Linked DNA regions of Homo sapiens: all the other regions are linked to region 6. Evidence: fine-mapped expression QTL. A gene starts in region 6. Each other region holds a variant in brackets. All regions are shown on one strand. Distances are from middle to middle. Region 1 overlaps NEMP2-DT (NEMP2 divergent transcript). Region 2 overlaps NEMP2-DT (NEMP2 divergent transcript). Region 3 overlaps MFSD6 (major facilitator superfamily domain containing 6). Region 4 overlaps MFSD6 (major facilitator superfamily domain containing 6). Region 5 has its middle 26 kb from the start of MFSD6. Region 6 holds the start of MFSD6 (major facilitator superfamily domain containing 6).

Evidence for each region. PIP is the estimated chance that this variant, and not a neighbour inherited with it, causes the effect.
Region 1: its variant is fine-mapped to the expression of MFSD6 in whole blood (INTERVAL, PIP 0.94).
Region 2: its variant is fine-mapped to the expression of MFSD6 in monocytes after LPS (Quach 2016, PIP 0.95).
Region 3: its variant is fine-mapped to the expression of MFSD6 in whole blood (TOPMed, PIP above 0.99).
Region 4: its variant is fine-mapped to the expression of MFSD6 in monocytes (Quach 2016, PIP 0.95).
Region 5: its variant is fine-mapped to the expression of MFSD6 in whole blood (TOPMed, PIP above 0.99).

What each region holds. Positions count from the first base shown.
Region 1 is chr2:190,606,013-190,610,101 of GRCh38, reverse strand. All of the region lies in intron 4 of NEMP2-DT (NEMP2 divergent transcript), which reads right to left. It also overlaps a transcript of NEMP2 not described here. Among named protein-coding and RNA genes, the nearest start is that of NAB1, 41 kb to the left of the region's middle. RefSeq lists an enhancer at 1,313-2,512. The variant C/T (reference allele first, on the strand shown) is at 1,948.
Region 2 is chr2:190,633,826-190,637,914 of GRCh38, reverse strand. All of the region lies in intron 4 of NEMP2-DT (NEMP2 divergent transcript), which reads right to left. It also overlaps a transcript of NEMP2 not described here. Among named protein-coding and RNA genes, the nearest start is that of NAB1, 13 kb to the left of the region's middle. RefSeq lists enhancers at 393-462, 1-732. The variant T/A (reference allele first, on the strand shown) is at 1,923.
Region 3 is chr2:190,439,073-190,443,161 of GRCh38, reverse strand. The region is part of intron 3 of MFSD6 (major facilitator superfamily domain containing 6); the gene reads right to left. It also overlaps a transcript of NEMP2 not described here. Among named protein-coding and RNA genes, the nearest start is that of MFSD6, 33 kb to the right of the region's middle. The variant A/G (reference allele first, on the strand shown) is at 1,905.
Region 4 is chr2:190,427,519-190,431,607 of GRCh38, reverse strand. The region is part of intron 2 of MFSD6 (major facilitator superfamily domain containing 6); the gene reads right to left. It also overlaps a transcript of NEMP2 not described here. Among named protein-coding and RNA genes, the nearest start is that of MFSD6, 21 kb to the right of the region's middle. RefSeq lists a silencer at 2,586-2,785. The variant G/ACG (reference allele first, on the strand shown) is at 2,381.
Region 5 is chr2:190,380,593-190,384,681 of GRCh38, reverse strand. No RefSeq gene overlaps it. Among named protein-coding and RNA genes, the nearest start is that of MFSD6, 26 kb to the left of the region's middle. The variant A/G (reference allele first, on the strand shown) is at 1,912.
Region 6 is chr2:190,406,100-190,410,188 of GRCh38, reverse strand. It overlaps MFSD6 (major facilitator superfamily domain containing 6), which reads right to left and starts at 1,834. Exons shown (of 8, transcript NM_017694.4): 1 at 1,686-1,834. RefSeq lists a silencer at 1,214-2,253 and an enhancer at 2,514-2,563.

The DNA of each region.
Region 1 (4,089 bases), 200 kb before region 6:
GTTTGGATTAAATTCTAATTTTTTGGCTACAGGTCTCCAAAATAATGTTTTCAATTTTTCCCTTTTTCTTTTCCTTTTCCCCCATTCTTCCTAATTGGAAATCACTGAAACCTGAGCTGTGCTTTCGTAAAGCCCTGCAAACTTAAGACTAGACAACTTAAACTTTAGAAGAAAACAGCAGCAACCTCTTTATATGTGTTGCTGTTGCATACTATTCTAGGCCCCCGAAATAGAGCCAATAGAGGGAACAAATCAACCACCTCCACTCCAGCACTGCATTCAGTCCCCATAATGATGACCCTCTCTCAGCAGGAAGTAGCCAGAAAGATTATGATGCCCCATATCCCTATGATCTTGTGATAAATAAATATACAAGCATGATAGAAATCATGCACAAATTGACAGTGGTGATTGTGGCAGGCCAGGTCTCACTAATGCAGGCCTGCATTACAACAACTGTCCCAGCTCTGACTGAGTAGCTAGGTTAAACATTAAAAGCTGATTGAGCCAGTGCCCTTATACAAAGGCTGGAATGTAACAAAGAGCCCACCAAGAGTTTTGCCTAGGCTTTTCATGGGCCTTGAAGTTTGACAAGATAATGAAGGAATTCTTAACAGGACCCTTTTAGGATTAAACAAGTTTTATTGGGGGGTCTGAAGAAACTCCTCGGGCCTCCACAAACAAGTTTATTGAGATCTAAAGGAACTCCCCAAACCTCCATGATTTAGCAGGAGACAAGATAAGGGTAATCACCCCAGCACCTAGACCCATTTAGATTAAGTAAACTTACTGAGGCTCTAGAAGGTCTTCAGGACTCAGACCTTAGTTATAGATTAAAAGAAGTTAATCACTTATGTCTTTAGATTAATTCACTCAGTTACACATAGACATATAGCTTAGAAGGTATATAAGCTCTGGAAAACTTTGTAATTTTGAGTTGGTCTGGCAATAATTTCCAGGCCTTCTCCCTGTAACTGGTTACAGAAATACTCTCTTCGTCCCCAGTTCATCTGCATCTCATTATTGGGCCACGAGAAATAGCAGCCCAACCCCCATATTGGTTCAGGAACAATGCCAAGAGCATGCTGTAATCCCCTCTATACAGTAGTCCCCCTTATCTTCATAGAATACATTCCAAGAACTTCAGTGGAGCCTAAAGCTGCAGATAGTACCAGACCCTATATATATTTTCTTTTTATACATACGTACCTCTGATAAAATTTTTTTAATAAGGTTCAGCTAACAGATTAACAATAATAACTAATAATAAAATAGAACAATTATACTACAGTAAAATCATACGCATGTGGTCTCTCTCGCTCCTTCAAAATATCCCATTGTTCTGTATTCCTGTGGCAACAGCTTCTTCATTAGCAGACACAGCCTCTCTAGTAATTTATATATTTTTCAGTCCAAACCTATTCCTGAATCTGTTAACTATCCCTTACTTGCAATAAATGGCTTGGTGTCACTCGTTTCAGGGGATCCCTTGCTGTAGGGATCAATGCTTGTCTTCATACAGGCTCAATGCTTTCTGGTGCAACGTGTTGCCAATCAAAACACATTTCTTTTAATGTCTCCCACCTGCAAACTGAATGCCTTTTTCATCTTAACTAAGCACTTATCATACTCTATGGCCATGACGTTTACAGTTTGAGGTGCTGTAACCAGCACAAATATATTTTTCTTTACAAATTCACGGGTAAAAGATTTGTTCTTATAAATTTTGTTAATTTCAGCAATTTTTTTTTCTTTCCTTGTTAAGTCAAGAACTTTCACCTTTTCACTTAAGTGAAGCACTTTATAGCTTCTCTTTGGCATATACGAATTGCCAGCATCACTACTCTCGCACATTGGGACCATTATTAAGTAAAATAAGGATTACTCGAACACAAGCACTGCGATACTGCAACAATCTGATAGCCAAGATGGCTACAAAGTGACTAA[C/T]GGATGGGGAACGTGTACGGCGTGGGTACGGGGGACAAAGGGATGATTCACATCCTGGGTGGGACAGAGCAGGACAGCTTGAAAGTTTACACCCTACTGAGAACGTCACACAATTTAAAACTTATTATTTATTTCTGGTGTTTTCTATTTAATATTTTTGGACTGCAGTTTACCATAGATAACTAAAACTGCAGAAAGCAAAAGTACCAATAAGGAGTGACTACTGTACACCAGTCTTCATCTCAGAGTCTGTTTCCAGGGAAGCCCACCCTGAGGGAATGAGTGTTCACATCTATAAAATACAGGGGTTATGCTATCAGAAGCATGAGTCAACAAAAGAAAAATAGATTGTACTTCAAAATGAAAAGCCTTTGTAATTTTACCTGGAAATGGCTGGAGGTGATGATTGCACGGCAACTGACTGTACTTAATGCCACTGAACTGTGCTCTTGAAAATGGATAAAATAGTAAATTTATGTTATGTCTAATTTTACCACAATAAAAATTAATTAATTTTAAAAATACAGGAGTAAGGTTGGATGTGCTTTTGGTTTCCTGCCCATGCTAAAGGTCCACAATTACTCTGAGTTACTTGGCAGCCAAATCTGGGTTGGTGTGATTTCAGGGGCTAGACTGTAGCATTTCTCAATCTTGGCTGTGTATTAGAATCACTTTGGATTTAAAAAAAAATGATGCTTCAGTTCTGCCCATAGTAGTTCCTGTGTAATAGTCTAGGGTCATGGCTTTGGTATTTTTAAAAGCTCCCAGTGATTCCAGTATGCAAACGCAGTTGAGCCTTACTGGGCTAGAAGAACCACAGCCCACTCCTTACCACCCACTTGCTGTTGCCCCTGAGATTTGGCCACCTGCTTATCCTTCCAGCCTCATCTTTCTGACTCCCTCCTACACATACCCAAGCTGCAGCTGAACCAAATGACTTGTCATTTATCCTCTCCTGTCAAACCCTGACTCCTATTCCCTTGCTCATGTTTCCGCTGACAAGATTACATTCCTCTGACTGATTCCAGCCCTCGTGAACCCCTTCTTGGGAAACTTGCCTTCAGCACCCGCCATGGGCTGTTCAGATGCCTCCACTCTGAACCCTGGAAGTGCCTCACATGTCAGCACCTATACTGAGGACTCTGGATCAGCACACCAGAGCAGGGATCAAGTCTTCCTCCCTGCATTCCCGGTACAAGGTAGGAAGCCAGGCACCAAGGAAGCTGCCAGTAGGTCTTATTTGAATAAGATTTCTTTAATAAGAGGTCATTTGCTCCACAATTAAATAGAAATTCTTAAAGTAAATGCATTGGGAAAAATTAGCATATCTGTATAAATAAGGCATTTTTAAAAAAAATTAATTGAGCTATTATTATATGCCTGGGATTGTGCTAATGCTTTACTTGGAGTTTCTTGTTGAATTTTCTTTTCTTTTTTATTTTTTTGAGTCAGCGTCTCACTGTGTCGCCAGGCTGGAGTGCAGTGGCACGATCTTGCTCACTGCAACCTCTGCCTCCCAGGTTCAAGCAATTCTCCTGTCTCAGCCTCCCAAGTAGCTGGGATTACAGTCCTGCCCCACCACACCCGGCTAATTTTTGTATTTTTAGTAGAGACGGGGTTTTGCCATGTTGGCCAGGCTGGTCTTGAACTCCTGACCTCAGGTGATCTGCCTGCCTTGGCCTCCCAAAGTGCTGGGATTACAGGCGTAAGCCACCATGCCTGGCCTCTTGTTGAACTTTCACAGCAACCTTAGGAGGCAGATACGATACTTTTCATGTTCGAAATGAGGAACTAATTTCAGACAAGTGAACTTGGCCAGGATCACAGCTAGTGTGCCGCAGAGCTGGGAGTTTCAGTTGGTACACAAGTGATGTTTCCAGAGCCTTCCTGATTTGGGGAAGAGGACAGGAAAAATTTAGGTCACTGGGAATCTAAAAGGAGGAGAGGGGCTGTAACTAGTAGGAAAAAGGAAGTTAGAAAAAAAGGCCACTGAAAGAAAAGACAAACTGTAATCTTCCCTATTTTGGTCCGGCCTTAGCTTAACTGTGAGTGAGTATTTAAATCACAAGCGCAAGACTGGAAGGTGGACACTGTGAAACTCTTGTTCCTCAGATACATTCCATTGAATTCAACCCAACAACA
Region 2 (4,089 bases), 230 kb before region 6:
TACTTTTCCTAAGATGTTTATACCTGGAGACTATTTGCTTGTTCAACAATTAAGCACTGACTGAGGGATACACACTAAGCCTATAAGCACAAGAAAATTAAATCTCTGCCCTATTTCCTGGTCTAGAAAGCGGAATACACATGTAAACAAGCACTTGCACACATTATAAGATGTTCTTAGTCACACAAAGAAAGAGTGATGGTTCTGGTTTGGGTAGGGCAGAGGGGTGAAAGTCAGTAGGCCTTGTAAGCAAGCAACAATTGGACAGGTCTGGAAGGATGAAATTAATAGACTCAGGAAGTGCAGGCACTCCCCAGCAAGTACAGAAGCACAGAGGCAGTGAGGCAGCATAAACATGAGCAGTAACTTAGGGAAATTATTGTGAAATGAAGCATAACTGATTCCAAATGACTTGAGAATTACATGTGAAGAGGGCAGAGGCAGAAGATGAAATTGTAGAGACCAAATTGTGCAGGAGCCACCTCTGACACGCTAAGCAGTGTGGACTTTATCTTGTAGCTGTAGTTCTCAGCACCAGTGAGTGCAAGAATCAAGCTGTGAGTGTCAGACATGAGAATAGTAGATACAACTAAGAGAAGAGAGAAATGATTGAAAGGGGAACAAGGGGGCTTCTGAAGTGCTGGCAAGCAAGGCCCTCTTTCTTGTTCTGGACCATGGTTATGTGGATGTTCACTTTGTAATCATTGAACTGCACATTTATGCTTTCTGTACTTACTGTACACTATACTTCTCAATTGTGAAAAAGTATTTTTAAGAAAATCAAGCTGGATTATTTATTGAAAACAGATTCCAGGATCTCCCTGTCAGACATACTGATTAAGTAGGCCTGGGCTGGCACTTGGGAAATCTGTACTTTTTAAATGATTACCTTAGTGAAGGATCTGAAGCCAGAAGGGACCCCTAGACCACACTTGGAGAACACTGCTAGCCCTTTTGGGGAGCCATCGAAAAGATTTAAGCAAGATGCTAAGAACAGAGATTTGTCTGTCTGAATGTTCTGGATAAAGGGGGAGGAAGAAGTTGAGGGTGGCCTCCACCTTATGCCTTATTAGCACTTGCAGGTTCTGTGTCCCATTCCTTTTGTGTTTTTAAGAGATGTGACAAATAAGGTGCTAATGACTTATAAGTACTAAATATGATTTTTGAGATGTGTTTTCTTTTGGAGTTTTCTTAAATATGAAAATTTTGGACTTCAGCACTTTAGTAGCTGAATTTGAGACATGGAACAAGCCCCTGGGGTAGATATTCTGGGGTAGGGAGCAACTTTGTAGAATTTCTTAAATGAGGGCATTCTCAGCCTGTGAGTCATAGTTGTTCCACTACTGACCTACCGTCATTACGACATACGCTTAGTGATGATTGATTTGCATGGATGCAGTTAAATTCATTTTCTTATGCCCCTGTATAATCAGAGGGATATTTTTGAGACTTAAAGCCTCCAATATGGTATTCTTCCAAACTTTAATCCTTCTGAAAAAAATATAACAAGTTTTGTTGCAAAGTTTTTCCTTTGCTGCTGACAGTGATGGAAATAGAAAGAGGAAACCTTACTTGGCCTTAAGCAGAGAATGAGAAAATCCAAAAATCTGACACAAAATTTGCACAGATTTTTTTTCCTCATAATTAAAGTACTAAGGAAATGCCATAAGATGATTCTTTGTGAGCAGAGCTCATCCATTCATCAGATCAGTAAAAATTTTAAAAGTCTGACAGCACAAAGTGTTGGCTAGGATTAAGAACATAGAAACTGCCTTTAATTCCAATATTTTGGGAGGCCAAGGCAGGAGGATCACCTGAGTCCAGGAGTTAGCAACTAGCCTGAGCAATATAATGAGATCCCGTCTCTACAAAAAATAAAAACTTAACCAGGCATGATGGCACACGCCTGTGGTTCCACCTAG[T/A]GGGGAGGCTGAAGTAGGAGGATTGCTTAAGCCTGGAGTCCAAGGCTGCCGTGAGCTATAATCATGCCCCTGCACTCCAGCCTGGGCCGCAGAGTGAGAGCCTGTCTCAAAAAACAAACAACATAGGAACTTACTTCTGTTAAGAGTATAAATTGGTACAAACACTTTGGAGAGCAATTTGGTGGTATTTAGTTAAGTTAAAGGTGTGCATACTCTGTGACCCAGAAATTGCACTCCTAGGTGTAGTCTCTGAGAAGCTCTCTTACCTGTGCCCAAGGAGATACATACAAGAATATTCACAGCAGCATAGAAAAAATTGGAAATGATGTATATTAGATCAACAGAAGAATTTATGGGTAAATTGTGAAATATTCAATGAATATAGCTCTGAAAATGAATGAAATAGATATGCATATCTCCCATGGAAGAATCTCACAAACAAGATGTTGATCAAGTTGACCAAAAATCAAGTTGCAAGACCAGACGCAGTGGCTCATGCCTGTAAATTGGGAGCACTTTGGGAGGCCAAGGCAGGAAGACTTCTTGAGGCCAAGAGTTTGAGACCAGCCTGGGCAACACAGCAAGGCCCTGCTCTACAAAAAATAAAATTAGCCAAGCCTTGGTGGCACATGCCCATGGTCCTAGCTACTCAGGAGGCTGAGGTGGGAGGATTCCTTGAGCCCAAGAGTTGTAGGCTGCAGTGAGCTATGACTGCACCAATGCACTCCATTCTGGGTGACAGAGCAAGACTCTTGTCTCTTAAAAAAAAGATTGCAGATGAATGTGTAGAATATATTTCTATCTAGGTTAAAAACTTGCAAATGCTATTGTTGTGTGGGAAACAACAACCATTGTTGCTGCAATGGTAGCCTGTAAGTACACTAACAGGCAAGCTATTCAAGGGATCACAGAACAAGAAAGGCTTATGGACCAAAACAAAATCCTCAAATCACGTGGCTTATTAAATCAATTTAAAACACACCATAAGAAGCTAGGTGAAAGACATGGAGGGGGTTAACACATTTAAGATGTGTCACAGGAGGCAGGGTGGAAAGATGACAACACCTGAATCCTCAGTCCTGTCTCTCCCTGCCACATCAGCCTTCCTAACCAAGTGTTTGCTTGCAAAGATCAGAGTTGAGATTTAACCAAAGCAGCCCAACAGACGGGTGTTTAGGGTCAAAACACACAGTTGCTCTAAAGTCTTGGGAGCAGAGTGGGTCTAGCTGACAGCAGTAGCTCATCAGTTAACCTCATGAACAGCTATGGATTTTATTTATATTTCTTTTGCAGAGGATATGAGGAGCCAACGGTTGGCCAGATTAAAACCTTTTGAATAGGGAATGCCTGATATGCCTTAAGTATCTTCAGTGCGTCATGAAAGTTGGATGATTCAGGGCCTCACATGTATCATGACTATTAGGTGTTTCTTGTTCTTTCCATCTCTTTCTAATTATGTTCATTACGCAAATGCACTACTACATTTTGTAGGAATTTTGCTTGTTTCATAAGCTACTTGCTTCAATTCTTAGTTTCATTTTTTTCTCCCTATGTGTTTGTTTCTCTTATTTTGTATAGCAGAATTGAATATTCTTAAATAATTAAACAAACACACATTATAAATACATATGTAATATGGTTAAAATAAAAATAAATGCTTAGAAAGATTAATCCCCAAGTTCAGGATTTGCCTAACTATGGTAGAGGCATAAAGGGGTGCATTAAGGATGGAATTTACAGGACTTCAGTTATATTGGTAATGTTTTGTTTCTTAATATGGATGCTGGGTATGTGGGTGTTTATTATATTATTATTTATAATTTTATGCATCTGAACTTTTTAAAAATAAATTTAAGAAAAGTTTGAAATAGTAAATACCTGGAGTCTTACAACAGACATTTGATACTTTTCTTTTTTTTAAGACACAGAATCTTGCTTTGTTGCCCAGGCTGGAGTGAAGTGGCACAATCATAGCTCACTGTAACCTCAAACTCCTGGGTTCAAGCGATTTTCCTGCCTCAGCCTCCCGAATAGCTACAACTATAGGCATGTGACCACCATGCCTGGCTAATTTTTTAATTTGTTGTGGAGACAGGGTCTTGCTTTGTTGTTTAGGGTGGTCTTGTATTCCAGGCCTCAGGTGATCCTCCTTTATCAGTCTCCTGAG
Region 3 (4,089 bases), 33 kb before region 6:
AGGAACACCCACAGAGGGTTCCTGGCTCAGGTGATGATATTGGGGGGTGCTCAGAAAGTCCATTGCTGCTAAAACAATATATAGAAACAGGTTACGGTAATACCATAATGACAGTTCCATATAACACAAAATATTCTCAAGCATAAGGATACTTACTTTAAGCAATAAAGCACAGACCAACATTTCAATAAATCAGAAACTTGAAATACTATCTTGGAGACAATTATAATTGATTTTCCTCAGCCCATTTCTCTTCTTAGACGACAAGATTTCCTTGTTGATCTTATCCACATTCCCGATTTTCACTGCTGCAAATCTGCATCCCGTCCTAACCTCTCCTATAAGCTTCAGACTTACAATATTGTGTCAACTGCCTGCTAGACATCCCCATCTAGATGTTTCAATTTCAAACCAAACAATCACACCCCCACCCCATTCTACATCTCCTTTCTGAATTTCCTATTAGATTTTTGGAATTACCATACCAAGCTGGAAATGTAGGGGTCTCTACCTCACTTCCACATCCAAATAATTCTGTCAATTTTACCTCCCAGATCTATTCCTTCCCTCAATTTCTGTTGCTACTGCTGCAGTTCAGGCCTGTACCGTCTCTTACTTGGACTATTTTAAGAACCTTCTCAGTGGGCTCCTGGCTTCAAAGTTACCCTGCATAGCAACATTCAAAGCAGGGAGGAACATATGAAAATCTATGGTCCTCCCTGCTTTGAACCTTGCTATGGCTACCTACTGCCTCCAGATGAAATTCAGGTTACTGATCCCAGCATCCATCTGGCCTCAGTCTCTCCTGTTTTTTCCAACACGCTTCCCTTTAGTATTCAGCCCCTGCATCTTACTAATCTGAGGCTCTTTGGGCCTAAATAACTGTTCAACTAAATTGAACAAATGTCTAGGATTTTGATTTTTAAGTAATATAGAATAATACTTGGTCCTCTAGAGCATGTAGAATTCATAATTCCAAATTTACTATGAGAATTAAGTCATCTTTTAAAACATTTTTATTGTGGTAAAAACCATTTTTAAAGAAGAATTAATCCTCCCTTAAGGAATCAGAATGGGGAAAAAGTTATTTAAGGTCTACCATCTTTTTGCTTTTTAATCAATAATTGAGTTATTCTATTTGTATTCTGTTTCTTCACAGTATCAATTGCCATCAGGAGTCTTTGTAAGTAGTGAAGAGTGGTGGATCAGGATCTCATCAGAGGCAGGCACCAATCTGACTTAATTCAGGGACTTGGTTAGGTAGGTGACAGAAAAGCTGGGAAGCCAGACCACTGTGAGAACCACAGGCAGCCTCTCCACGGCCTTGGGCAGAAGAATAAAGAGAGGAGAGAATGTTGTTGGAGCTCAGGGCCACCCACAGTGGGTGGGGCATAGGTGAGACGCAGCAGCTCACAGAGGTCTCTAGAGCTGAGGAGACAAGGCTGAGAGTCTGGGAAGCGGGACAGAGTACCCACGTGGAGAAAGCTACAGAGAGAGAGGACTGTAGAGATCTGTAGCTTCCCTAGAGTCTTCAGCTGAGTACTGACCAGCACATGTACATAAGTAAACTACAAGAGGCCAGAGAGAGGACTAGAGGGAACCATCTCCAAATCTTACACAAACATGCTGCATGAGCTGGAAAGAGAAATATAAATGCCCTGCTTTCCCCCCAACCCCCGCCCCTCCTCCTTTCCTGTAATCCTCCCCTTACCTATGCCTCCCATTAGCCTGGTGGTTCTCAACCTTGGCTGCACAAACTAGAATCAACTAGGAAGCTGTAAAAACGTTGAATGCCTCGGTACACCCCTAGAAAGACTGATGTAATTGGTCTGGGTGCAACCTGGGCATTAGGAGCTTTAAAAGCTCTCTTGGTGAGTTGAGAACCAATACATTAGCCGAACCCA[A/G]GTAGAAGACACGAGAACAGACCCTGGAAAACATAGCCTACAGAAATCAGCACCCTTTCATACGGGGCAAGGAGAGGATCTGAGAGCCTGTGGGCCTAAGATCAGCAAAGATGGCACAAAGAGATGGGTAGAAATAAGATGATGAGAAGAAGGAGAAAAAAAAGTAGGCATGATCTTCCTTAAACCCTTCAGTGGCCAGCTCACATTGAACACCCGGCTGCAGAGTTTCTTCCCTCTTATAATACTTACTGCTATTCCTCCAGTGACCAGACTATCATGTGCCACCTCCCATGTGTCCTTGGCTGTGCTGAAGCCCAGCATCTTGCTATCTGTTCTGGTTCATCCTGCAGCATCCCATCAGGAAACCCTGGTGTTCCTCCTCTTACTAGCTGCATCAGGTATTTTCTTCTTTCCCAAACTGACTGGCTAGTTCATTTGTATATTTTGCTAATATTAAGTAGTAATTGATGGCTAATAATAGGTAATGTAACCCCCCCGGATAATATTTGCATGGCAAAACAGACCTTGAGTGTAAGAATTTCAGGGCAAAGTCACAGATTGATTGAATAGATTTTTCTGTGTCCCTTAAAATGTAAATAAATTTAAATCAAATAACATAGGGGATGGCCTAACATTGGAAAGTAATGATTTACAAATTTACAAATGATTTACTGCAATGTATTTTGATTATAATCCTACTCATAGCTGCTAAAATGTTAAGCAATGTGAAGATACCTTAAGATACATTTATATCCTGTTAATCATTTATAGCCTAAAAATATACTTGCTGTAAATTCCAAAGTCTTATGATTTTGGATCAAAAGAAATTTATTTTTAAAAGTGGAAATATTTAGCATTATTATCCTATTTGCCTGAGAAAGTCACCTTCCAGAGAAGGACAAAATCCAAGGTCAAAATCAGAAATCAGATACTCTATGTGTGTGTGTTTAGACTGACAGGTCAGTCCCTGAGAAACTGGTTGTATATTGTGAAACTGTTAAAATACTGAGTTCAAAACTGGACATGCTATTTTTAAAAAACTATTTTCTGGTATGAATCTTTCTTATTATTACTCTAGATGAAGAATTTGTGAATCTCCACAAATATATGGTAGTGCCAACTCCTAAAAACAAACTTCCAACAGGACAACCACAAAGTACTGAAATAATATACATGCATGCATAAAGGCCATGGGCAGATCTACTTCTGTGATCCTACAAGCAACACATCAAGGCTCATAATTCAGAGATCATTTCTCTTCACCAACTACTTAATGAATGGTATTCTTCCAGTGGAAAGTTTAAATCCCCAAATCACAACCAATACCACCTGACTGAGCTCCCAAAATTATCACTAAAAGGAACAGATCCATTCTACCTAAGTATGTGGACATATTCTCATTTTAGCTATCAGACTCTTTTAAAAGCACTTGAAATAATTAATACATTTTAATGGACAGAATGAAAATTCAAAACAGGTAAATGACCACATACTGATGGAATTCCCACAGACTCTTGGGAGCAATATGACCATAACAGCCATCTTCTTCCATCACATTATTAAACAAGAAATGGAAGATGCTTTTTGTCCGTAAAAACCAGAAAATTAAGGTTAAGTGAATTTTGAAATGATGAGTAACTAATACTACACAGGAAAGAAACACACAAGTCTAAGCTTACCAAAGGAGTAGTAAACCCACTAGGATTTTATCATGAAAATGCTGCATATGTCTCAGACAAAAGGCAAAGGTAGAAGAGAACCATCTTTTCTTAGCATGTGGAAATAACCTAACAATTCCTTTGAAAATAGAACCTATCTATACACATGCAACAAATCTGCACGTTGTGCACGTGTACCCTAAAACTTAAAGTATAATAAAAAAATAAACAAATAAAACGTGAAAAAAAAGAAAATAGAACCTAAACACATACTCTGTACTGAGTCAGTGTTCAACTCATGCTATTGACTTATTAAATAATGATGTCTAAGAACTCCACGCATTGGTAAGACCTAACTGGGTACCTTTCTGGGAATGAATAACAGTGATTTTAAAGACATTATTAACTGCAGTGAGATTTGCTCATCTGCCCAAGCTGAAGGGAGGCATCTGATTCATCTCGGTCAATTTAAACAGCTCAGATAATCTAAACATGGTGTGGACAAAATTAAAGGGCATTCCGAGTCC
Region 4 (4,089 bases), 21 kb before region 6:
TCAGCCTGCCAAGTGCCTGCGATTGCAGGCGCGCGCCGCCACACCTGACTGGTTTTCGTATTTTTTTGGTGGAGACGGGGTTTCGCTGTGTTGGCCGGGCTAGTCTCCAGCTCCTAATCGCGAGTGATCCGCCAGCCTCGGCCTCCAGAGGTGCCGGGATTGCAGACGGAGTCTCGTTCACTCAGTGATCAATGGTGCCCAGGCTGGAGTGCAGTGGGGTGATCTCGGCTCGCTACAACCTCCACCTCCCAGCTGCCTGCCTTGGCCTCCCAAAGTGCCGAGATTGCAGCCTCTGCCCGGCCGCCACCCCGTCTGGGAAGTGAGGAGCGTCTCTGCCTGGCCGCCCATCCTCTGGGAGGTGAGGAGCCCCTCTGCCTGGCTGCCCAGTCTGGGAAGTGAGGAGCGCCTCTTCCCGGCCACCATCCCATCTGGGAAGTGAGGAGCGTCTCTGCCTGGCTGCCCATCGTCTGAGATGTGGGGAGCGCCTCTGCCCCGCCGCCCTGTCTGGGATGTGAGGAGCGCCTCTGCCCGGCTGCGACCCCGTCTGGGAGGTGAGGAGCGCCTCTGCCCGGCCGCGACCCCGTCTGGGAGGTGAGGAGCGTCTCTGCCCAGCTGCCCCATCTGAGAAGTGAGGAGCCCCTTCACCCAGCAGCCGCCCCGTCTGAGAAGTGAGGAGCCCCTCCGCCCGGCAGCCACCCCATCTGGGAAGTGAGGAGCGTCTCCGCCCGGCAGCCGCCCCGTCCGGGAGGGAGGTGGGGGGTCAGCCCCCGCCCGGCCGGCCGCCCCGTCCGGGAGGGAGGTGGGGGGGGCGCCTCTGCCCGCCCGGCCGCCCCTTCTGGGAAGTGAGGAGCCCCTCTGCCTGGCCACCACCCCGTCTGGGAAGTGTACCCAACAGCTCATTGAGAACGGGCCATGATGACAATGGCGGTTTTGTGGAATAGAAAAGGGGGAAAGGTGGGGAAAAGATTGAGAAATCGGATGGTTGCTGTGTCTGTGTAGAAAGAAGCAGACATGGGAGACTTTTCATTTTGTTCTGTACTAAGAAAAATTCTTCTGCCTTGGGATCCTGTTGATCTGTGACCTTACCCCCAACCCTGTGCTCTCTGAAACATGTGCTGTGTCCACTCAGGGTTAAATGGATTAAGGGCGGTGCAAGATGTGCTTTGTTAAACAGATGCTTGAAGGCAGCATGCTCCTTAAGAGTCATCACCACTCCCTAATCTCAAGTACCCAGGGACACAAACACTGCGGAAGGCCGCAGGGTCCTCTGCCTAGGAAAACCAGAGATCTTTGTTCACTTGTTTATCTGCTGACCTTCCCTCCACTACTATCCTATGACCCTGCCAAATCCCCCTCTGCGAGAAACACCCAAGAATGATCAATTAAAAAAAAAAAAAAAAGAATGAGGACTATGCAGCCATAAAAAGGATGCGTTCATGTCCTTTGCAGGGACATGGATGAAGCTGGAAACCATCATTCTCAGCAAACTGACACAAGGACAGAAAACCAAACACCACATGTTCTCACTTATAGGTGGAAATTGAACAATGAGAACACTTGGACATAGGGCAGGGAACATCACACACTGGGGCCTGTTGGGGGGTGGGGAGCTGGGGGAGGGATAGCATTAGGAGATATACCTAATGTAAATGACGAGTTAATGGGTGCAGCACACCAACATGGCACATGTATACATATGTATCAAATCTGCACATTGTACACATGTACCCTAGAACTTAAAGTATAATAAAGAAAAAAAAAGAACAAGAGCAACAATACACAGATATATGTATCTGACATCATATACAAAAATGAATTCCAGGTAGATTATAGGTTTAAAAGTCAAAGATTAAATAACATAGCTTTTAGAAGAAAACATAGAAAAATATCTTAAAGATTTATAGATAGGAAAATATTTACTAAATAAGACACAGAGTATATTAAACATTAAAGAAGAAAAAATAATTGAACTACATTAAAATTAAGAATTTCTGGCTAGGTGCAGTAGCTCATACCTGTAATCCTAGCACTTTGGGAGGATCACCTGAGATCAAGAGTTCGAAACCAGGCTGGCCAACATGATGAAACCCCGTCTTTACTAAAAAAATACAAAAATTAGCTGGGCATGGTGGTGGGTGCCTGTAATCCCAGCTGCTTGGGAGGCTGAGGCAGGAGAATCGCTTGAACCCAGGAGACGGAGGTTGCAGTGAGCCGAGATTGCACCACTGTACTCCAGGCTGGGCGACAGAGTGAGACTCCATCTCAAAAAAAAAAAAAGAATTTCTGTTCATAAGCTACCATTAAAGATTGAAATGGCAAGTCAAAGAGTGAGAGAAGATATTTTGGTGATATATGTATACACACACACACACACACACAC[G/ACG]TAACAAAAGAATTATACAGATATATAAAAATTTATTCTTTAAAATCAATAGAAAAAAATCAGTAGGAAAATATCAGGTAACCCAATAGGAAAAATAAGCAAAAAGCTTGAATAGGCACCTCACAAAAGAGCCTATACAAATGGCCAATAAATATGTAAAAAGATGATCAACTTGATTAATCGCCAGTGAAAGCATTAAAACCAGAATACAATAATGTAACATACTCTAAAAATGGCTGAAATAAAAAAGATTGAGGCTGGGCATGGTGGCTCACACCTGTAATCCCAGCACTTTGAGAGGCCGAGGGAGGTGGATCACTTGAAGCCAGGAGTTTAAGACCAGCCTGGCCAATGTGGCAAAACCCCATCTCTATTAAAACTAAAAAAATTAGCCAGGCATGGTGGCAGATGCCTGTAATCCCAGCTACTCGGGGGGCTGAGGCAGGAGAATCACTTGAACCCAGGAAGCAGGGTTGCAGTGAGCTGAGATAGCACCACTGCCCTCCAGCATGGGTGAAAGAGTGCAACTCTGTCTCAATAAATAAATAAATAAATAAATAAATAAATAAATAAGCAAGCATCTCTAAATGTTTGAGTGCCAACATGATACTCAAAGGAGATGCACATTGTAGCATTTTTGATTTTTGGATTTAGAAGGCTGAACAGGTAAGTATAAAACAAATATTCTAAAATTTGAAAAAATTCTAAATCCAAAATACTCCTGGTCCCAAGCATTTTAAATAAGGGATGCTCAACCTGTAATATCAAATGTTGATGAGGATGTGGAGCAACTAGAACTCTCATAGATTGCTGGTGGGACTGTAAATTGATACACTACTTTAAAAACTGGGAATAGCTACTAATCCTGAGTGTAAGACCCTATGACAACCAAAAGATATGTATATTCACCGAAAGACATCTATAAACATGTTCACTGCAGAATAATTTTAATGGCTCAAAACTGGGAGCAACCTGTCTACAGCAGATACATAAATTGTAGTATTTCCATCCAAAGAAATACTGTGCAACAGTAAAAATGAACAAACTACAACTACATGCAGTGACAAGGATGAATCTCACAAACATAATATGGACTAAGAGAAGCAGGAAACAAAAGATCACTGAACACATGATTCCACTTATGGAAAAATAATAAACAGGCAAAACTAAGTTATGGTATTAAAAGTGGTAGACATGGCAGGGCACAGTGGCTCACGCCTGTAATCCCAGCACTTTGGGAGGCTGAGGCAAGTGGATCACCTGAGGTCAGGAGTTCGAGACCAGTCTGATCAACGTGGTGAAACCCCATCTCTACTAAAAATACAAAAATTAGCTGGGCATGGTGGCAGGCACCTGTAAGCCCAGCTACTCAGGAGGCTGAGACAGGAGAATCGCTTGAACCCAGGAGGTGGGGATTGCAGTGAGCCAAGATTGTGCCATTGCACTCTAGCCTGGGTGACAAGAGTGAAACTCTGTCTCAAAAAAAAAGAAAAAAAAAAAGTGGTAGACTTCTTTTCCAAGAAGATGGAGTAGACACAATTTTCTCTATCACTTCTGCTAAGTACAACTAAAAACCCTAGACAATAATATATAAAGTAAACATAGAAGACTCTGAAAGATAGACAAAAAAAGGCAGACCAGCTATGGACCTTGGTACCCAAGGAACAACACAAGTATGAGTGGAGCTGAAGAACCAAGAAATACTGATG
Region 5 (4,089 bases), 26 kb after region 6:
TCTTGTAAACTTTTGAATTGATTTAATTATTCTTCTAGACACAAGTCCTTCATCAGATATGTATTACAAATATCTTCTGCCATTCTGTGGTTTGAATCTTTATTCTTTTACTCATAGAAGAAAAACAATTCTAGGAACATTGGCTAAAATGTTCTCAGTAGCTATGCTTGAATGTTGGATTTTTCTCCTCCTTTTTACTTCTCCATATTTTTCCAGTTTTTTAAGGATTATTTAATGACAATTTAAAACACAATAAAGGGAACGAATTGGTTAAGGAAGATGGTTTATTTAAAATGATGCAAGCTGGGCGCCGTGGCTCATGCCTGTAATCCCAGCACTTTGGGAGGCCAAAGTGGGTGGGTCACTTGAGATCAGGAGTTCGAGACCAGCCTTGCCAACATGGTGAAACCCCGTCTCTACTAAAAATACAAAAATTAACCGGATGTGGTGGTGGGCACCTGTAATTCCAGCTACACGGGAGGCTGAAGCAGGAGAGTCTCTTGAACCTGGGAGGTGGCAGTTGCAGTGAGCCAACAGAGATCACACCACTGCACTCTAGCGTGGGCAACAGACCAAGACTTTGTCTCAAAAAAAAAAAAAAAAGGGTCGGGCGTGGTGGCTTACACCTGTGTAGTCCCATCATTTTGGGAGGCCGAGGCAGGCAGATCACAAGGTCAAGAGATCGAGACCATCCTGGCCAACATGGTGAAACCTCTTCTCTACTAAAAATACACAAAAAATTAGCCGGGCATGGTGGCACGTGCCTGTAGTCCCAGCTACTCGGGAGGCTGAGGCAGAGAATCACTTGAACCTGGGAGGTGGCAGTTGCAGTGAGCCAACAGAGATCACACCACTGCACTCTAGCGGGGGCAACAGACCAAGACTTTGTCTCAAAAAAAAAAAAAAGGGTCGGGCGTGGTGGCTTACACCTGTGTAGTCCCATCATTTTGGGAGGCCGAGGCAGGCAGATCACAAGGTCAAGAGATCGAGACCATCCTGGCCAACATGGTGAAACCTCTTCTCTACTAAAAATACACAAAAAATTAGCCGGGCATGGTGGCACGTGCCTGTAGTCCCAGCTACTCGGGAGGCTGAGGCAGAGAATCACTTGAACCTGGGAGGTGGAGGTTGCAGTGAGCCCAGATCACACCACTGCACTCCAGCCTGGGTGACAGAGTGAGACTCTGTCTCAAAAAAAAAAAGAAGAAAAAAAAAATGCCGGGCGCGGTCTCACACCTATAATCCTTGCACTTTGGGAAGCCTACGTGGGTGGACTGCCTGAACTCAGGAGTTCCAGACCAGCCTGGTCAACTTGGTGAAACCCAATCTCTACTAAAAATACAAAAAATTAGCCGGGCGTGGTAGCTCTTGGCTATAGTCCTAGCTACTTGGGAGGCTGAGGCAGAGGAGAACCACTTGAACCCAGGAGGCAGAGATTGCAGTGAGCAGGGATCCTGCCACTGCATTCCAGCCTGGACGACAAAGCCAGACTGTCTCAAAAACAAAAACAAAAAAACATGATGCAGTTAAAAAGTGACCCATTGAAGAAGTTAGCCAAGACAAGATGTTTGCCACAATTTGCCTTTAATGTTGCATCTGCACCTGCACAAATCTGCTAGAGACACCTGGTGGAGAGTGTTGATAGGTTTACAGCAAGTGTTAGAATGTGCTGAATGTACTTGCTTACTTACAAGATGAGAAATGTACTAATGCACATCCTGGTTCCCTTATTAACTCAGCTTTCAAATAACTGGAAAGAGCCTTCAGATGGGGCAAGCCTAGCTTGCAAGTGGGCTGTGTTTGGGCCTCACTAGCAAATATGACAAAAATTTAGATAGAACAAAAGACAGTAAATTCAGAAGTAGAACTGGGACTTATTTGGGGCTGGCTACATAATTTGTGAGACCTAGT[A/G]TAAAATGAAAATGTGGGGCTCCTTGTTCAAAAAGTAGGGAGAAAAGTATCCTTACAGGCACATAAAGGAAAAAGAGTTTTACTCTCTTCCATGGTCTCTCTCAACTTGACATGGTTTTTGGGTTTTGGGAGTTTTGTTGTTTTGTGTTTGTTTGTTGCTGTTTGATATCATTATAGATAAAGAAAAATAACAATTTTAATGATTAGTCTGAACTTTAATATTCATGTTTACCTCATGCAATGCCAATTTTTCTTTTTTTCTCTCTCTCTTCTTGCTCTGTCGCCCAGGCTGGAGTGCAGTGGTGCCATGTTGACTCACTGCAACCTCTGCCTCCCAGGCTCAAGTGATCCTCCCACTTCAAACTTCTGAATAGCTGGGACTACCGGCATATACCATCACGCCCAGCTAATTTTGTATTTTTAGTAAAGATGGGTTTTGCCATGTTGACCAGGCTGGTCTCCAACTCCTGACTGCAAGTGATCCACCCGCCTCGCCCTCCCAAAGTGCTGGGGTTACAGGTATGAGCCACCGTGCCCAGCCCAATGCCAGTTTTAAATGCAGATTGGAGAGTATTTAACTCATATGTGGTATCACCAAAATTACATAAATCATTTTTCACAGTTCACACATGAATATATATATTGTTCTTACCATAACAGTGAAAACATTGCAGGAAACTAACTCAACTCTTTTTATTTCACTTCTTGATACCCCGGCATTCTACCAGCCCTCCCTACCTTCAGCTTACTGGCAAGGAACTGAAAAGGAAAGGAACTATGTGTGGTCCTATCTTTACCTTTCCTTTTGTGCCATCATTTCAGCCTATGTGATTGGCTAATATAGGAAAATAGCACAAATAAGAAAGGACATGGGAGGTTTCCTTAGTTTTCCTGTTTCTTAGAATGCCATTGCCTTGTTTTTGCTTTGGAAGCAGGTTCTGGTTCTGGGAACTGTCAGTGCCCCCACTTGCTCAGTCATCAGCAATGTAATGCACTTACCATGCACTTGCTTTGAGTCTCATTGAACCCCCATACAACATAGGTCCACAAGAATTCTGTGCTCACAGGTGCTGTGAACCCTATGTGACCAGAACTGCAAGGGGACGAAGCACACACATTTTGTACATTTCTCCTCCTATTTGGTATGGCTACAATAAGAAGATGATCAAAGTATGATTTCAGGAATCACATGGTTTATTGCCATACAAAGAGATTCTTTTTTTTAATGCTCAAAGAGGGGGGAAATAACAAGAACAAATCTCGCAGAGATTATACTCCGCAGATGAGGTACATTATCCACATAATTAGTTATAATTTCATTTCAAGTCCAGTGATTACAGTTTAGTTGCTTAGAATGGAAGTAGGCCTCTGTGGATGTGAGGGAGATCCGAGACAACTTGTAAGATCCCTGGACACTAGCAAGTGGTGCCAGTGCTGTGTGGGCTGGCGAGGCTTTGAAAGCTAGCTCAAAGGCTGACAGAGATTAGCCCTGTTGCAGCCTGAGCTCTCAATCTGTCTGCCAAAATCTTGGGTTTATATGTGTTTTGGAGTCTAGTCGTTGAGGCCAATAACTCACATATGTGGTCTGGAAAAGTGTGATGTAACATTCTGACAGGGAAGGGGACTATGCTCCATGTTCTTATCACAGCAAAACATCTGTCACTTAACGCAGAAAGTGTTTGGAATATTTTCAGAGCTACGTAACACCTCCATTCATGCACATGCTCCATTGCCCCTCCATTCACTTACAAAACTTATGAATTTGAAGGTAAAATTTTTAAGAACTTCAACATGGCAATAGCAGAACCAAGCATGGCACATTTTTGAGGGTGGAGCTTTGTGAGCCGGCACAGGTCATAAGACCATATAGCCAGCCCAGGACTGGTTTGCTTTTTGCAAATGGGTAAAGGGAGAAAGCTCTTAATCCTACATGTTCAAGGCTCCTTTAAGATGAGGAACTTTGAAAATACAGGCTAGAAAAGAAAAATCATATTTAGAATTATAGGCATTTTGTTAGAGCCAGAACTTGGGCTAGCCTTGAGTATCAGATAGAAATAATAAATACATAAAACCTGTTTTGGCTGGGCGCGTTGGCCCATGCCTGTAATCCCAACACTTTGGGAGGCTGAGGCGGGTGGATCACCTGAGATCAGAAGTTCAAGACCAGCCTGACCAACA
Region 6 (4,089 bases):
ATACTGTTAATAGTCCAGACACTATATATGATGGAATTGGTGATCCAATACTCACACCACCAAATACCTGTGAACTCTGCTTTTTGTCTTTGTGTTTTATTTGCCTTCACGCTTTTATATTTATTTGTATAGAGATGGAAAGTGCCTTAGAAATAAACTGCTGTAAACATGAAGGACACACAACTACTTAGTAGCTTTAATGCATTATTGAAGTGATGTTCTCTCCTCCTGTTTCCCCAGAGCATCCTGCACTGGGCTCATTAACAATGTCCCATCCTTCCCCTAAGCAATCCTAAATTTTACTTACACCTCGTGATAAATACAAGCCATCTGACTATCACTAAACAGCTGACCATATCCTGCACCTCTGCTAGCAGCTTGACGTGTCAAAAGCCAAGCTTCCCAAAGAGGAGGATCCTATCCTTTTACTTAACAAGGCTAAAACAGATGCATACACTTTTAGCTGGCTAGTGCCCACATCTTGGGGAAAGGACCTACCAAGTACACATCTCCTTTTATTACATATTTTAGTCAACTGTATGTCCACCCACCCTTCACATTCATCTATACTTAAGAGGTTAGATTTCTAGAAAATCATGGACTTCTAGAAGGATTAGGGGAAATTTTGGCCACTATAATATCCAACCATCCTCTTTTCCATGTGAGAAAACTGGGGCTCAGGAAGATGTGACATGCCCAAGCACACACATCTATTTAAATACCAGTTGGGATTAGAACCCCAACTCTTTAAGTCTTTTGCACACTAATAAGCAAGGTATTATATGTTCCAGTAGTTCTGTGAGGTGCTTATTCAATCTTTTTGGGATGAAAAGAAACGTCCGTGGTTGCGAATGCATAAAGGTAATTAACCCACCTGTCTGTCCATGTGGGGATGGGATTAACGAGGGGGAAAGTTGCGTTTGTATTTTTCCACCATCTTACCTAAATTTGCAGGAAAATTGCTCTATGGGCAATAAATATGACCCAGAAAGACTAGCAACCCCCAGTAGTATCTCAAAAGGGCTCCAGAGACATGTTAGACCAAGTGGAAGTAAAGCACGAGGTGGGGGATGTCTGCTAGGATGGTGGCTGGCAGAGCAGAGGTATTTTTTTTTCCGTATTTATTAACCTGGGAGGGCAGACGTTGTCAATTTCCTCCTCCTGCCACACAAGTGGCCGCGTCCTTGTCACTGGGGCTGTGTGGAGGTTCTCACCTCCTCCTTTTTCCCAGGGATGTTTATGGCGAGGGCGCGGGTCGGCCCGGGCGGAGGAGGACCCGGGCATCGGCGCTCACCCTCCGTCCCCACCCGCGGCAGCAGCTGTGGGCGCCCGGCGAGGGCTCCCTGGGCAGCGCCTTTGTTTTCCCGACTCCAGTTACGTTTGCGGAAGTGCTGCCAGCACGGGGCGCGCTGGGGGCGCAGGCGGCAGCCTCCCCCAGCACCCCACAAAGATGACACCCGACACGGAAGCCGGGGGAGGGAGGGAGGGAGGGAGCGGCGGGCGAGCGAGGCCCGAGCGGAGACAGCGGCGCACGCTGGGCTCCGAGCCCCGGCCCCGAAGCCCCTTTCCCGGCAGCAGGTGTGCGCGGCTGAGGTGCCTACCCGCCCTCCGGCTGGGCCCGTGCGGGGCGGGGGAGGCCAGGGCGGGTCTGCGAGCCCCTTCTCCGCAAGCCGGGCCCGACTCACCTGCTGCGGCGGCGGCAGCGCTCAGCTGCGCGGGGCGCGGGGAGCCCTGTCCCCGGAGCACGGGGCGGCGGCTCGGGGCGCCGGGGCGGCGGCTGTCGGGGCAGCGCGCACCATCCCGGGCTGCTCGCGCGCTCCTCCGGGGCTGCGACGGGCTGGGCGGGGCGCGGCGAGGCGAGGCGAGGGATGCGGACCGGGTGGGGCCACGGAGGACGGAGGCGGAGGGCCCAGCGCTCCCGCCGGCGCGACCTTCTCTCCCGCTGCGGCTCCTCCTCCTCCCCGGCCCCGGCCTCACAGTCGCCGCCGCCGGTCACTACCGGCTGGACCCGTTTCAGGGCCGGGCGCTGAGGACCGGCCGCCAGGTGCAGCGCTCCGCCTCCTGCGGCGGCGGCGGATGCGTCGACTGCCCGCTCCCGGCCTCCAGCCCGCCCCGGCGGCCCGGAGGGACACCTGAACCCAGCCGGGCCCGGGGAGCACGCTGAGGAGGCGAAAGCACTGGGCGAGGCTCCATCCCTACCGCACCCTCCACCCCCCCGCACCCCCAAGCGACTTCCGCTGAGCCCCCAGGCAATGAGTGCGGGCCAGGAAATGTGGGGGAAAATGTACTAACATCCCTTATTCCTTGAGCGCCTTTTAAGTGGCACACACAATGCTAATGCTGTCAGTGCGTTATCTCCGCGTCTGTCCCAGGTTGACCCGGGAGGGAGGAGCCGGCGGGGTGCGGGAGACAAACGATCTGTGAGTTTCGGGGCTCACCAAGAAGGGGGAACACTGAGACGAAGGCACCCTTTTTCAGGAAGCTGCTACTGGCATCTTGCTGAAAAGCCAACCGTGTGTGTCGCACTAAGAATATAATTAAAGTTGTATTTCTAGTTAAACACGCAGAGAGTTGGGGGAGAGTGGAGTATTCACTTGGCAAGTATGTCTGTGTGCCTGTGATGGGCTTTGGGGGATGCCACATCCTGTTCTTAAGGAGTTTATTGTCTTGTTCTGGCAACAACGACAAGAGTGACAATGGTAGCTAACGGCAACAACGACAAGAGTGACAATGGTAGCTAACGCTTATAAACATCGATTATGTACGGGGCACTGTGTAGGTACTCTTTGAGCCTTATAACCCTATAGGTGTAGGAAACGTTATTCCCATTTTACAACTGAGGAAAGCCGAGGCTGAAAGTTAATGTGACCCATCCAAAGTTACTAAACAGCGAAAGGGAAAGCAGGCTTCTTTTGTCTCCAGGCTTTAAGCTCTTAACCGTGAAATCATACTGGTAAGAATTTGATAGGCCCTGAAGTTTCTGAATTTTGAGTCCCTCTTTAGGAAGAATAAAACAATTACAAATACGAAGTTTCTAGGGCCCCTTCCTGAGCTTATGAAGGGTCTCTGAAGCTTAAACTATAGTAGCCTCATGCTAAATCCACTTTCAATATTGACGTAGATATTCAATCATTTCTTTCTCCAGGCATTTCTTTCTCCTGTCAGGAACACGAGACACTGGTCCCCTCCTTGAAACTCTTCCCTTCTCTTCTTTTGGTGCTCCGTAAGTGTTGGATTTTCCTCCTTGAAACTCTCCCCTCCTCTGCCTTCTGTGACCCACAAGTCTTGGGTTTTCCTCTTCCTCTCTGGCCACTCCCCTTTGCTCCACTTGAGTTTTAGTTTTCCTTGGGTTTTGTTCTAGGCTTTCCTTTCTTCTGATTCTGTTTGTTTCTGCGAATTCTCTCACTCCTTGGCTTCAATCACAGAATATTTGAGGGTGCTCCAAAAGCCCTCTCTCGGGGTCAGCTTTTCTCCTGAGGGCCAGATCCTTATGGCCAGTTGTCCAGTGGGATGTGTCACAGGCACCCCAACCTCACTAAGTGCCACGTCAATGTTTCTTTACCTTCTGTTCTTCCCCTACTCGTTTTTTTTTTTTAAGATGGAGTCTCACTCTGTCGCCCAGGCCGGATTGCAGTGGCGTGATCTCAGCTCACTGCAACCTCTGCCTCCCGGGTTCAAGTGATTCTCCTACCTCAGCCTCCTGAATAGCTGGGATTACAGGCATGTGCCACCATGTCTGGCTAATTTTTGTATTTTTAGTAGAGATGGGGTCTCACCGTGTTGGCCAAGCTGGTCTCAAACTCCTGACCTCAAATGATCCCCCCACTTCAGCCTCCCAAAGTACTGGGATTACAGGTGTGAGCCACTGCACCCGGCCCCTCATTCACTCTTGCTTCTGGGTTCCCAGACTCTGGGGTCCCAAACAGCCATCCACCCAGTTGTACAAGGCCCTTCTTCTCAATGCTCCTTTCACCCTTATACCCATGCCCAGTGTATTAGTTACCTATTGCTGCTGTAACAAGTTATCGTAAACTTTGTGGATTAAAACACACATTTATTATCTTACGATTCTGGAGGTCAAGAGTCCAA